2 separate regions of the Homo sapiens genome follow, and region 2 is linked to region 1. A link means that fine-mapping ties the variant in region 1 to the expression of a gene that starts in the linked region. Tissue or cell type: whole blood. Region 1 holds a variant in brackets; the other region holds the start of a gene. All regions are shown on one strand. Distances are between the middles of the regions.

Evidence for each region. PIP is the estimated chance that this variant, and not a neighbour inherited with it, causes the effect.
Region 2: it holds the start of AHNAK, and the variant in region 1 is fine-mapped to the expression of AHNAK in whole blood (INTERVAL, PIP 0.93).

Annotation. Positions count from the first base shown.
Region 1 is chr11:62,299,045-62,304,646 of GRCh38, forward strand. It overlaps SCGB1D4 (secretoglobin family 1D member 4), which reads right to left and starts at 31. Exons shown (of 3, transcript NM_206998.2): 1 at 1-31. The variant T/C (reference allele first, on the strand shown) is at 2,064.
Region 2 is chr11:62,543,913-62,549,236 of GRCh38, forward strand. It overlaps AHNAK (AHNAK nucleoprotein), which reads right to left and starts at 2,894. Exons shown (of 5, transcript NM_001620.3): 1 at 2,748-2,894. RefSeq lists enhancers at 1,401-1,911, 1,912-2,422, 3,001-3,531 and silencers at 1,566-1,695, 2,226-2,345, 2,356-2,405, 2,686-2,755, 2,876-3,045.

The DNA of each region.
Region 1 (5,602 bases):
ATGAGTGATTTGGATTCGACTCCAGGAGCCTGTGTAGTCATGGAGGCCAGGGCTATTTGTACCTAGGGAGCCTGGCTGGTCCTACCTACCGGGGCACCTGGTAGGTCATGAGGCCTGGCTCCCAGCCCGCCCTTCCAAGCCAGGGCTGCTGCCGTCCATCAATGTCACCTCCTTAGGAATCTCTGCATCTGAGTGGGGCGGAGCACAAGACAGCAGCCTTGTGAGAACTCTGCTCTGTGCTCCAGGTGAGTGTTCAGGTACATCTGGAAATGTTCCTGGGATCCTCAATTTCCTTATGAGCTTTTGCTGATTAGTTCTTTTTATCTTTGTAGCAGTGCAGGGGCACAGGTGAATTATGGCTTCACAAGGCACAGGAAGCTGGAAGGCTGTGTTCTCTTTATGGGAGAGCAGGGACATAAGGAGACCCTGCTTTGATCCCCCTGCATGTCTGACAACAAGCAGGCTTGTTTCAGTTGCACATTGGGAAAGTCTAATCCTTCCCCTCAGCCCCTTCCATCACCACCATGTTCACTGCATAGGTACTGAAAACATAGTTGAATACATCCCACCTGTAGAAGATATGCTGAGGAAAAACATCTGCTGCACCTGTTCTCTAGCCTGCCTCACTCCCAAACCTGAATCTTGTTTATACGTGCAGTTATATATATGGCCAAGATTCACATTTTCTATCTATAAAAAGCAAGCTTTCTGTGATGTGTAGCCACCCACGTCTTATCTTAGGGCTGATCTGAAGATTAAATAACCTAACTCTTTTTCTCAAGAGCTTTTGGAGTGTTCAGAGCCAATCATACATCAGTGGGGCTCTAGGCTGGGAAGATAATAGAAGGGAAGAGACAGAGGAACAGGGTGGGTGGTCACTTCCCCCTAACCCCTAGGCTCAAGTTTTCCACTTCAAACCTATCTGTGCTGCCTGGGCCAATCCCATTTTTAAGGGAAAGTGAAGGAAGCCCCCAGACAAAGCAATACACACCCGCCTTCCCTCCCATTGCCGTGCCTTCATGTGGTGTGAGTTTAATCACCAGAAATTTTTCTCTTAAATAAACTTACATTTGAGAGGAGTCACAGCCCAGGCCATAGCTTTCCATTCTCAGCTATGTAGTCAAATCACTTGGAGCTTTTAAAACATACTGACCCCACAGGCTTCTCTCTCTGGCGATTTTGATTCAGTAGCATTGGGGTGAATCCCTCCTTTCTGTACTGTTTAAACTGCTCTGGTGTTTCTCACAGACAGCAGGGCTGAGATCCAGCCAGGAAAACCTTTAAGAAGGAAGGGGACCTTACGGGTTTTGTCATCAAAGACACATTGACAGATTTAGTTGAGTCCAAGCTGAGGGCAACAGTGGATCTCACTTTCATCACACAGGATGACGACGGAGTCCCTGAATCAGCCCTGCTGCCACCAAGGAGGGGGAGGGTTGGTGGTGAGGTTTACAGCTATGAGGGTTCAGATCCTCATTTATGGGCTCCTGGACCTTAGGAAAATTATTCAGTTTATGTAACCCCAGTTTTCTCATTTGTCAAAGTAGGCTACTAATGGTGCCTACATCATTGGGTTGATAGATGATCAAATGAGTGTGTTCATGGGTGTGTGTGTGTTTAAAATATACCAAGTTCTGGTACATAGTAGTTCTCAATGTAAACTGCCATTATCTTGTCCCATTTGTCATATATGTCATGGTTTGCCAGTAGTTCCTAGTTTAGAGCACAGCCAAAATCCACTAAATCACCTACTTGCAGAACTACACGGACACCTAGATACACCATTTCTCTTTGACATAAATGGAAAAGGAAACCCAGCTCATGGTCTTGGAGGCTGCAAACCCATGAATATGGGCTTCAGGACTGAGGCCTCTTTTGCAGTAGACAGGTCTGTGAAGCATCCACCCTTTTTGTGGATGAGAGTTTATCCTCACTCAGGCTTGACATTCACCTTGTCATCTGTACAGTCCATTGGGGAGCATGTGTATCTCTGACAGAGGATTGTTTGCGTATACTTTTATTAGTCCTACCACGATTAACACCTATGCAGGGTTTTTTTGTTT[T/C]CATCATTGATGCTTTTTATGGCTCCCTCCTTTTTACACAATTGACTCAAGATTTTAGTTTATTCTTTCCATCCATGGACATCGTTGCCTGACCCCGATGACTTGTTCAATACTCCCCTTCATAGACTCTGCTGGAACCATGCACCTCTCATTTGCAGCAATCTCAAGTAACAAGGAATTTAAAAGGATTTTCTTTAAAAGTGCTCAGCTTAATTAAAAGTGGATATGTTCAAGTTATAGGTATATTGAAAAGGTCTTTATGCTTTTCTCTTGTTGAATCTTGTTTTTTGGGAAAAAGGCTCTTTTCTTTTCAATCAACTGAATTATTTTTCTCCATTTTTCATCTTACCATTCTTAATGCAAGCATGAGAAGCCCTAAGATAACTTCTGGTAGCATGGGACTCCTTGGGAAAAACAGAGGAGGCACCACAGACCCCATTTTGGGGAAAAAAAAAAAACTGTTTTCCTCATGAAACCCCCAAAATTAAAAGCAGTTACTTCTCAAAATCAAAGGCTCTGTTCTGTTATGTATTGTGTAATCTACCATTTTGAGTTTTGGGGGTGTCAAATTACTTCACACTATGAGAGAGCTTCGGTGTGTAATAACTAGATAGAAAATTCAATGTTAGGGATGGCTAATAGTAGTTATAATCAAAGAAGCGTGCTCTTGGCCACCTGAAAGATATGGCAACATCCTCACCCCCAACTAAGAGACGAGACTCCCATGGGGAATGGGCTCATTACAGAATAAGCCAATTGGCTTTGGGTTCCCTTGCAGTGAAATACGTGATAGAACCACTACACTGTCTTCTCCCATAGTATCTCCCTCCTTTTAGGGACCCAAGATCAGGTATAAAATGGCACCCTTAATTTTAGGGATCTGCCTTTGCCTTCAGCTGCGTCTGTTTATTAGGTATGCTACATAGCCCTGTTCCTTCAAGGGCTCCACCCTAAAGCCAGTAATCCAATTAAGAGACTACCAAGTGAAAAATCTTACAAGTGCTGAATCTTCTGTTTCTTAGTGTTGCTATATATGTGCTGTGTGTGATGTCTATAAAAAGAGCTCTGATTGATTGGCTTAAAGAAAAATAAGTGCTTCAATCAAATGTTTTAGTTCACATGACTTGAAGAAATAAAAATAGTCTGAAGGATTATTAGTAAAAGGCAAGTGTCATCAAAATGCAAATAGGTTGTCTAAATCATATAATTTAGATACCAGGTTTGCTAAATGTTGCAAGGTCATATACTGCCTGCTTTACACATAGGTAAGGCCTGGGACTCATGGAGCTAGAAGCTGAAAAGTCAGACTTTATCTGCACTTCTGTCTGGGTCCTAGGATCCACAGCTGGAACATAATTAAAATTGCTTACTAACCAGGTTTTTCACCAAAAATAAAAGGTGAAGGGTAAAGTTATTGTAAACCACAGAGATAAATACACTTCTTTGTCAGTTGATGGTGTTTTCTAAATATACAATCATGTCATCTGCAAACAGAGACAATTGGATTTCCTCTTTTCCTATTTGAATACCCTTTATTTCTTTCTCTTGCCTGATTGCCCTGGCCAGAACTTCCAATACTGTGTTGAATAGGAGTGGTGAGAGAGGGCATCCTTGTCTTGTGCCAGTTTTCAAAGGGAATGCTTCCAGCTTTTGCCCATTCATATGATATTGGCTGTGGGCTTGTCATAAATAGCTCTTATTATTTTGAGATATGTTCCATCAATACCTAGTTTATTGAGAGTTTTTAGCATGAAGGGCTGTTGAATTTTATCAAAGGCCTTTTCTGCATCTATTGAGATTATCATGTGGTTTTTGTCATTGGTTCTGTTTATGTGATGGATTATATTTATTGATTTGCATATGTTCAACCCGCCTTTCATCCCAGGGATGAAGCTGACTTGATCGTGGTGGATAGCTTTTTTTATGTGCTGCTGGATTCAATTTGCCAGTATTTTATTGAGGATTTTCTCATCGATGTTCATCCGGGAGATTAGCCTGAAATTTTCTTTTTTTGTTGTGTCTCTGCCAGGTTTTGGCATCGGGATGATATTGGCCTCATAATACGGGTTAGAGAGGATTCCCTCTTTTTCTATTGTTTGGAATAGTTTCAGAAGGAATGGCACCAGCTCCTCTTTGGACCTCTGGTAGAATTCGGCTGTGAATCTGTCCATTCCTGGACTTTTTTGGTTGGTAGGCTATTAATTATTGCCTCAATTTCAGAACTTGTTATTGGTCTATTCAGGGATTCAACTTCTTCCTTTCATCTTGGGAAGGTGTATGTGTCCAGGAATTTATCCATTTCTTCTAGGTTTTCTAGTTTATTTGCATAGAGGTGTTTATAGTATTCTCTAATGGTAGTTTGAAGTTCTGTGGGATCAGTGCTTATATCCCCTTTATCATTTTTTATTGTGCCTATTTGATTCTTCTCTCTTTTCTTCTTTATTAGTCTGGCTACCGGTCTACCTATCTTGTTGATCTTTTCAAAAAACCAGCTCCTGGATTCATTGATTTTTTGAAGGGTTTTTCGTGTCTCTATCTCCTTCAGTTCTGCTCTGATCTTAGTTATTTCTCATTCTCTGCTAGCTTTTGAATTTGTTCACTCTTGCTTCTCTAGTTCTTTTAATTGTGGTGTTATACTGTCGATTTTAGATCTTTCCTGCTTTCTCTTACGGGCATTTAGCACTGTAAATTTCCCTCTAAACACTGCTTTGAATGTGTCCCAGAGATTCTGGTACATTGTGTCTTTGTTCTCATTGGTTTCAAATAACTTATTATTTTCTGCCTTAATTTCATTATTTACCCAGTAGTCATTCAGGAGCAGGTTGTCCAGTTTCCATGTAGTTGTGCAGGTTTTGAGTGAGTTTCTTAATCGTGAGTTCTAATTTGATCGCACTGTGATCTGAGAGACTGTTTGTTATGATTTCCATTCTTTTGCATTTGCTGACGAGTGTTTTACTTCCAATTATGTGGTCAATTTTAGAATAAGTGCATTGTGGTGCTGAGAAGAATGTATATTCTGTTGATTTGGGGTGGAGAGTTCTGTAGATGTCTGTTAGGTCCACTTGGTCCAGAGCTGCGTTCAAGTCCTGAATATCCTTGTTAACCTTCTGTCTTGTTGATCTGTCTAATATTAACAGTGAGGGGTTAAAATCTCCCACTATTATTGTGTGGGAGTCTAAGTCTCTATGTAGGTCTCTAAGAACTTGCTTTATGAATCTGGGTGCTCCTGTATTGGGTGCATATATATTTAGGATAGTTAGCTCTTCTTGTTACATTACATAATGTAATCCCCTCCTTGTCTCTTTTGATCTTTGTTGGCTTAAAGTCTGTTTTATCAGATACCAGGATAGCAATGCCTGCTTTTTTTTGCTTCCCATTTGCTTGGTAAATATTCCTCCATCCCTTTATTTTAAGTCTATGTGTGTCTTTGCACATGAGATGGGTCTCCTGAAATACAGCATACCGATGGGTCTTGACTCTATCCAATTTTCCAGTTCATGTCTTTTAACTGGGGCATTTAGCTTGTTTATATTTAAGGT
Region 2 (5,324 bases), 240 kb after region 1:
GTGGGGGAGAGAGCCACACTGTTCCCATAAGGAGTAGGACTAGCTCTCCCGGTCTGTCTCTCTGTCTGTCTCCAGGCAGTTCCCAAGTTCTAAAGAAGGTGGTGACCACACCCCAGAGCCCCACACACCCCTCCGCCCCCACGGCTTTGCCCCAACCCCTCAAACCAGCTCCTCAGGCTCAGGGTGACCGGCTCTGCCAGGACCCACCAGCCAATTCCAAGTCGAGCAAAAGAATCCAGCCTGGCAGCACCGCCACCTTTCCCCAGGACTTCCTGAGGGCTAAGATGACTCCGGGGACCCCCAGCCAACTCCGTACCCTGGGCTGACGCTGGACCTTCTCCCTCAACAGGTCCCTGTGTCCCACCCCTGGCCCTGGACCATGTCTGGCTGCCACAAGTCCTCAGCTCCGAGGGGTTGGCTCCTCAAGGAGTTCCCGGACCAGGACCCCTGAATCGCTGCTGTGGGCCTCCATATCAGCCCGCATGACTTATGTGGCTCCCCATGTGTCCCTGTTCTCTGACCAGTGTCCCTGTGCATAACCTCTTAGGGACAAAGGCTTTAGAGAGGGGCTCAGACACCCTCTAACCCACATTCCCACAGCCCCCAAACCCTGCGACCTCTCCTAGCTCCACTCTTACCCTCCCTAGCTCCTCTCCCACCCTCCCTCACCCCAAAGCTCACAGCTCAGAGCAAAGAGGTGCCCCTAACTTGGGGGCTCCCCTGTCCTCCCCATTCTGCACAGGCCACTATCCACGCGGTGGGGGGTGGGTGACCCCGCTGTCCCTAAGGACTGGAGAAGGAAGCTTCCCCCCATTCAGCTTCTGAAAGGAAGTGAGTGCCACACCCTGCCCCTGGGATTTCCCTCACGGGGAGGGGATGAAAGCGAGATCTCTACCCTGAATTACAGCCAGTATAGGTGCAGGGGCCCTTAAACGCCTTCCCCCACTCTCAGCTTCACTGCTGCAGCCCCTCACTGTATTCCACAAAATCAACCCAACACCTACCATGCACTAGGCTGTGCTGGGACGGGCAAGCAGAGAGCAGGAGCCCTGCAATCCGAGGTTGGATTCTAATGAAGACGGGTTCGAAACCAGTATTTACTGAGCGCCCAGCGCTGTGCTGGAGACACAGAGGTAGATATCTCGGTCCCTTTTCCTCCGGAGACTCCGGAGGTCTAAGGACCTGACTGACTTGGGAGGCTCCCACACTGCCTTTCCACAAATCCCCTCCACAGAGCAGGGCACTCTGCAGCGACCGCACGCTCCCTGGGAGCACCTCACTGCCACGGTCGCCGCGGCGGGAGCCACACCCTGCGAAACCGGCAAGCACACACATCGCACACAACCCTCAGTGGCCTCATTGTGCAGAGGGGCCAGAGCCGTTCCCCACCTTGTTGTGGGGCCTCGGCTACAGCTGAGAACACCCATCTGCCCCCTCCGCACCCCTCCCAGCAAGGGGCACAGCCAGCCCTGTTTGGGCCCCTGGAGTCCCTCATGGTCAGCGCCGCCAAGGGGCTGCGCCCCCACATCCCGGCCTGGGCACTGCTGGGGGGCGACCAGCCCTGCCAGGGACGGCCCAGGCCCTCGCACACTGCACACACACACCCCCTCCCCTTGCATGGGAAAGCCTTACATAACACAGCTCTGCACACACCCTAAGCACGCTGCCTTTCCAACTCTAGGCGAGACCTCGCTTCGGGCCCCCTCTCCTGGCGCGCACCGCTGGAGCGCAGGGTTCCAGCGAGCGCAGCTTAGCCCTCCTCCCACGCCAAGCCCGGCTCCTGCCCCCAACTCCCACACACAGCCCCTTCCTCCTCCCCTTTGCCCCTCACCACTCCTCCCTGAGTTCTGGTTTGAATTAGTCACCGGCTCCAACCACCACATTCCTCAGGCTGCTGGCGCCGGGCCAGGCTCTGGGGCGGGGGCCATCCCGCCCGGACGGGTTTGGGAGTTGGGCGGGGGGAAAGCGCCGCCTCCGGAGGGGAAGGGGCGGTCCCGAGGACTGGGCCGCCGCAGCGCACCCCCCTCCTCGCCCACCTCAGCATAGGAATCTCCCTAATTTTGTCCCCCTCCCCACCCATCCCGCTGGGAGGCGCATTGCAAACTTCCAGGTTCCGCGGCCCGAGAGGAAGGTTTTCTGGAGCGGGGAACGCGGAGAGGCAAGGCTAGGGCGGGGCAGCTGGAGGAGGCTGAGGGGCTGGTGGTACAGAACAGGGTGGGGCCTGGACGACTCGGGACGCGGTTAGGGGCAGAGGTGCAGGGAGCGCGGAAGGACAGCCGAGGGGGCGCACGGTGCGGGGTCGCGGAGGCGCGGAGGCGCTGGGGGCCGCGGTGGCGATCTCGGAAATTTCCCCTCCAGTAAACATGGGATACGAACGGAGCAGCCCCCGAGCCACCGCCCCATGCAGGGAGAGGAGGTGGGACAGAGGCCACCAGGCCCGGAACGGGGCGCCCTGCCTTGCAGTGGAGCCAACAGTCCGCCCTCCGGAGAAATAAAGAGTGGAGCAAAGCACTTCGGAGCGATTTTCCAACTTTAACCAACTTGCGCCCCAACTCCAGAGGCAGAACTCCGCTCCCAGAGAGCGACGCGTCGCCGCCCCGGGTGGCCCCGCTTGCTCCAAACTGCTTGAATCCTCACAGTGACACCCCCAACAACGCGCCCTGCCGGAGCACCGCAACCCACCTCCCCGCGACCCGCCCTTGGTGCCCCGGACCCCGATGGCGCCACGGTGCGCCTGGCGCCCCTACCTGAGGGCTCAGCCCCAGGGCACGGCCATAGCCGGCGCGAGGCCCAAGGCTGCGGTGCTGCGGCTACTGGCGGCGACGAGCCCCGTTCCGGGCGGGTCTGGCAGGGCGGGCGGTGCAGTCCCCGCGGCAGAGCAGCTCCGAGTGGCCGGGCCCCCGTGCGCGGAGGCGGCTCTTGTAACTCCGGCTCGGGCGGGCGGGTCTGCCCGGAGCTGTGGGGAGAGGGCGGGGCCGGGCGGGGCCGGAGCGGGGCTGGGACTGGCGAGCGGGGCAGACCCTGGAGGGACCCGGGAGTGGGCTGCTGGGGAGGGGGGCCGCTGGGGGACGCGGGGACATTCTTTCCCCCCCTCCCCGCATCCACTGCCCCCTGTCCTGTCCCGGACCTGGACCTGCTCTCCAACATGTGCACTGTGTGGCTTCATTGGCAAGAAACTCCTGCAGGCTCCCTGGGCTCACCCTCACAGCTGGAACTGCGAATCAACTTATTTTGCAGGAAGGGCCTGGGGGCTCTGAAGGTGGCTGGGTGATTCAGCCGCGACCGTCAGCTTGCTCCGGACCTTTGAGTTTTCTCTCAGCTTAGGCAACTACACTTCAGATCCCAGGCCCCAGCCTCCTTGCTTGGTTCCCAAGCTCCGTGCTGCCGCGCCCATTTCTCGCGTTCTCTCTTTCTGGGGGCCCCTCCGTCCATATCCGCACAGAACTGGCTTGGATTTCCACCCCCCAGGAGCCGGGGTCACCAGTGCCTCGCGCACCGCGGTGCTGCGCAGGCCGCGGGCATACGGGGGTGAGGACCCCGGGCGTTGGACAGCGGACCCGACGCCCACCTTCCTCTCCAGACTCCCGCCCCCAGGAGCCAGAGCCCCAGCGCTTCCTCTGCCTCCCATTCCTTCTCTGAGCGCCGCCCCCGCCTCCCCACTTGCGGGACGCTGAGTCTCCTAATTTACAGCGATTTCCCACAGCCACTTCTAACTACATCGAGATTTTATTAAACGTTTAATGATGGGGTGCGGGGGCCTTCTGGCTACACACTCCCCTCCACACTCCCTTTCTCTTCTCCCTCATGAGTCCTTTTATCCTCCCTCCTAGGTGGCCACCCACTGCCCGCTCCAAGCCAGTTTCCCCTCCTTCCCAAATGCTAAGGAAAGAGAGACCCCAGGCTGGGGAACTAAGGAGACCTGGCCAAGGCAGGAGCGCCCTCCTTGCTGCAAGATCATGAGTGGGCTGGAGCTGAGACCAGCTCGGCCCTGTCCTCTGAAATGGCAAACATGTTTACAGGCTAAAAATACCCAGCAGTCAACTCTGCTGCCAGCCCTGGGGGCTGTGTCCAGGTCCAGTTACCGGCACAGAGTACAGGCCGTGGGGGAGGGAAGAGACAGCCAGAGGAACCACAGACATGGGCACTCATATAATGGACACAGAAAGGTGGAGCCGCATGTGCAGACATCCAGACAGGCAGAGACATGTGAAAACACAAAGCGGAGACTTGGGCACCAGCATTTTCTCTTGCTCTCTCTAATACACACACACAGGTGCCCAGATAATGACTCAACCCCATGGCAGAGGCAGCCTCGCCACAACACATCCCAAGCACACAGTCACAGACTCACACTTTCCCAAGAATCACCTGCTCCCCCATTTTGTTCTGCACCCCTTTCCTAGCACCTACCTTATTTAAAGAAAAAACAAATCTAAAACTTTTGAGCTATAGAACACTTAAAAAAAAATTACCAAGGCCAGGCGCGATGCCTCACACCTGTAATTCCAGCACTTTGGGAAGCCAAGGCAGGTGGATCACTTGAGCTCAGGAGTTCGAGACCAGCCTGGCCAACATAGTGAAACCCCGCCTCGACTAAAAATACAAAAATTAGCAGGGCATGGTGGCGCAGCCTGTAATCCCAGCTGCTCGGGAAGCTAAGGCAGGAGAATCCCTTAAACTTGGGAGGCAGAGGTTGCAGTGAGCCAAGATCGTGCCACTGCAGTCCAGCCTGGGTGACAGAGCGAGACTCCATCTCAAAAAAAAAAAAGTACAATAAAACACAGACTTCTCCCTCCTCCCCTATCACAGTCCCTCTTCCCAAAAGTAACCATTGTTAACAGTTTACCAAAGGATTTTTAACTTTATGGAATGAATCATCATCTCGTTCCTTGAAAGAGCGAATGTTCCCAGTGCATATTAAAACAGGAGTTGATTCACACCTAGGTTGGAAACACAGGGTATCTGCAAAAAGGGCTAAGGGGGCGTGGGGGGCTGCTAGAGCAGAAAAGGAAGAAGAGCACGGAAAGGCGTGGACGCTGTGTCTTCGCCTCGACTGGGCTAGATCGGCCCCCCAGGATCCAAACAGCAGAGGCCAGAGTCCCAGGCTCAGAGCCAACTTATCTGCTCCATTGTTTGTTCTGGCCACCCTCTTGGTCAACAGGGAAGAAGGCAGGAGGGAGAGGTTGGTTTTTGAAGCAGCCCCAGAGCAGAGATCACTGACCAGGTACTTCATTCAGGGATATGAATGTCAAGATTACCTGGTCGGGGGGTAGTTCTGAGGACTGGCTCTTGTCCCATTCCAGACTGGAGGGCTAGAGAAGGCT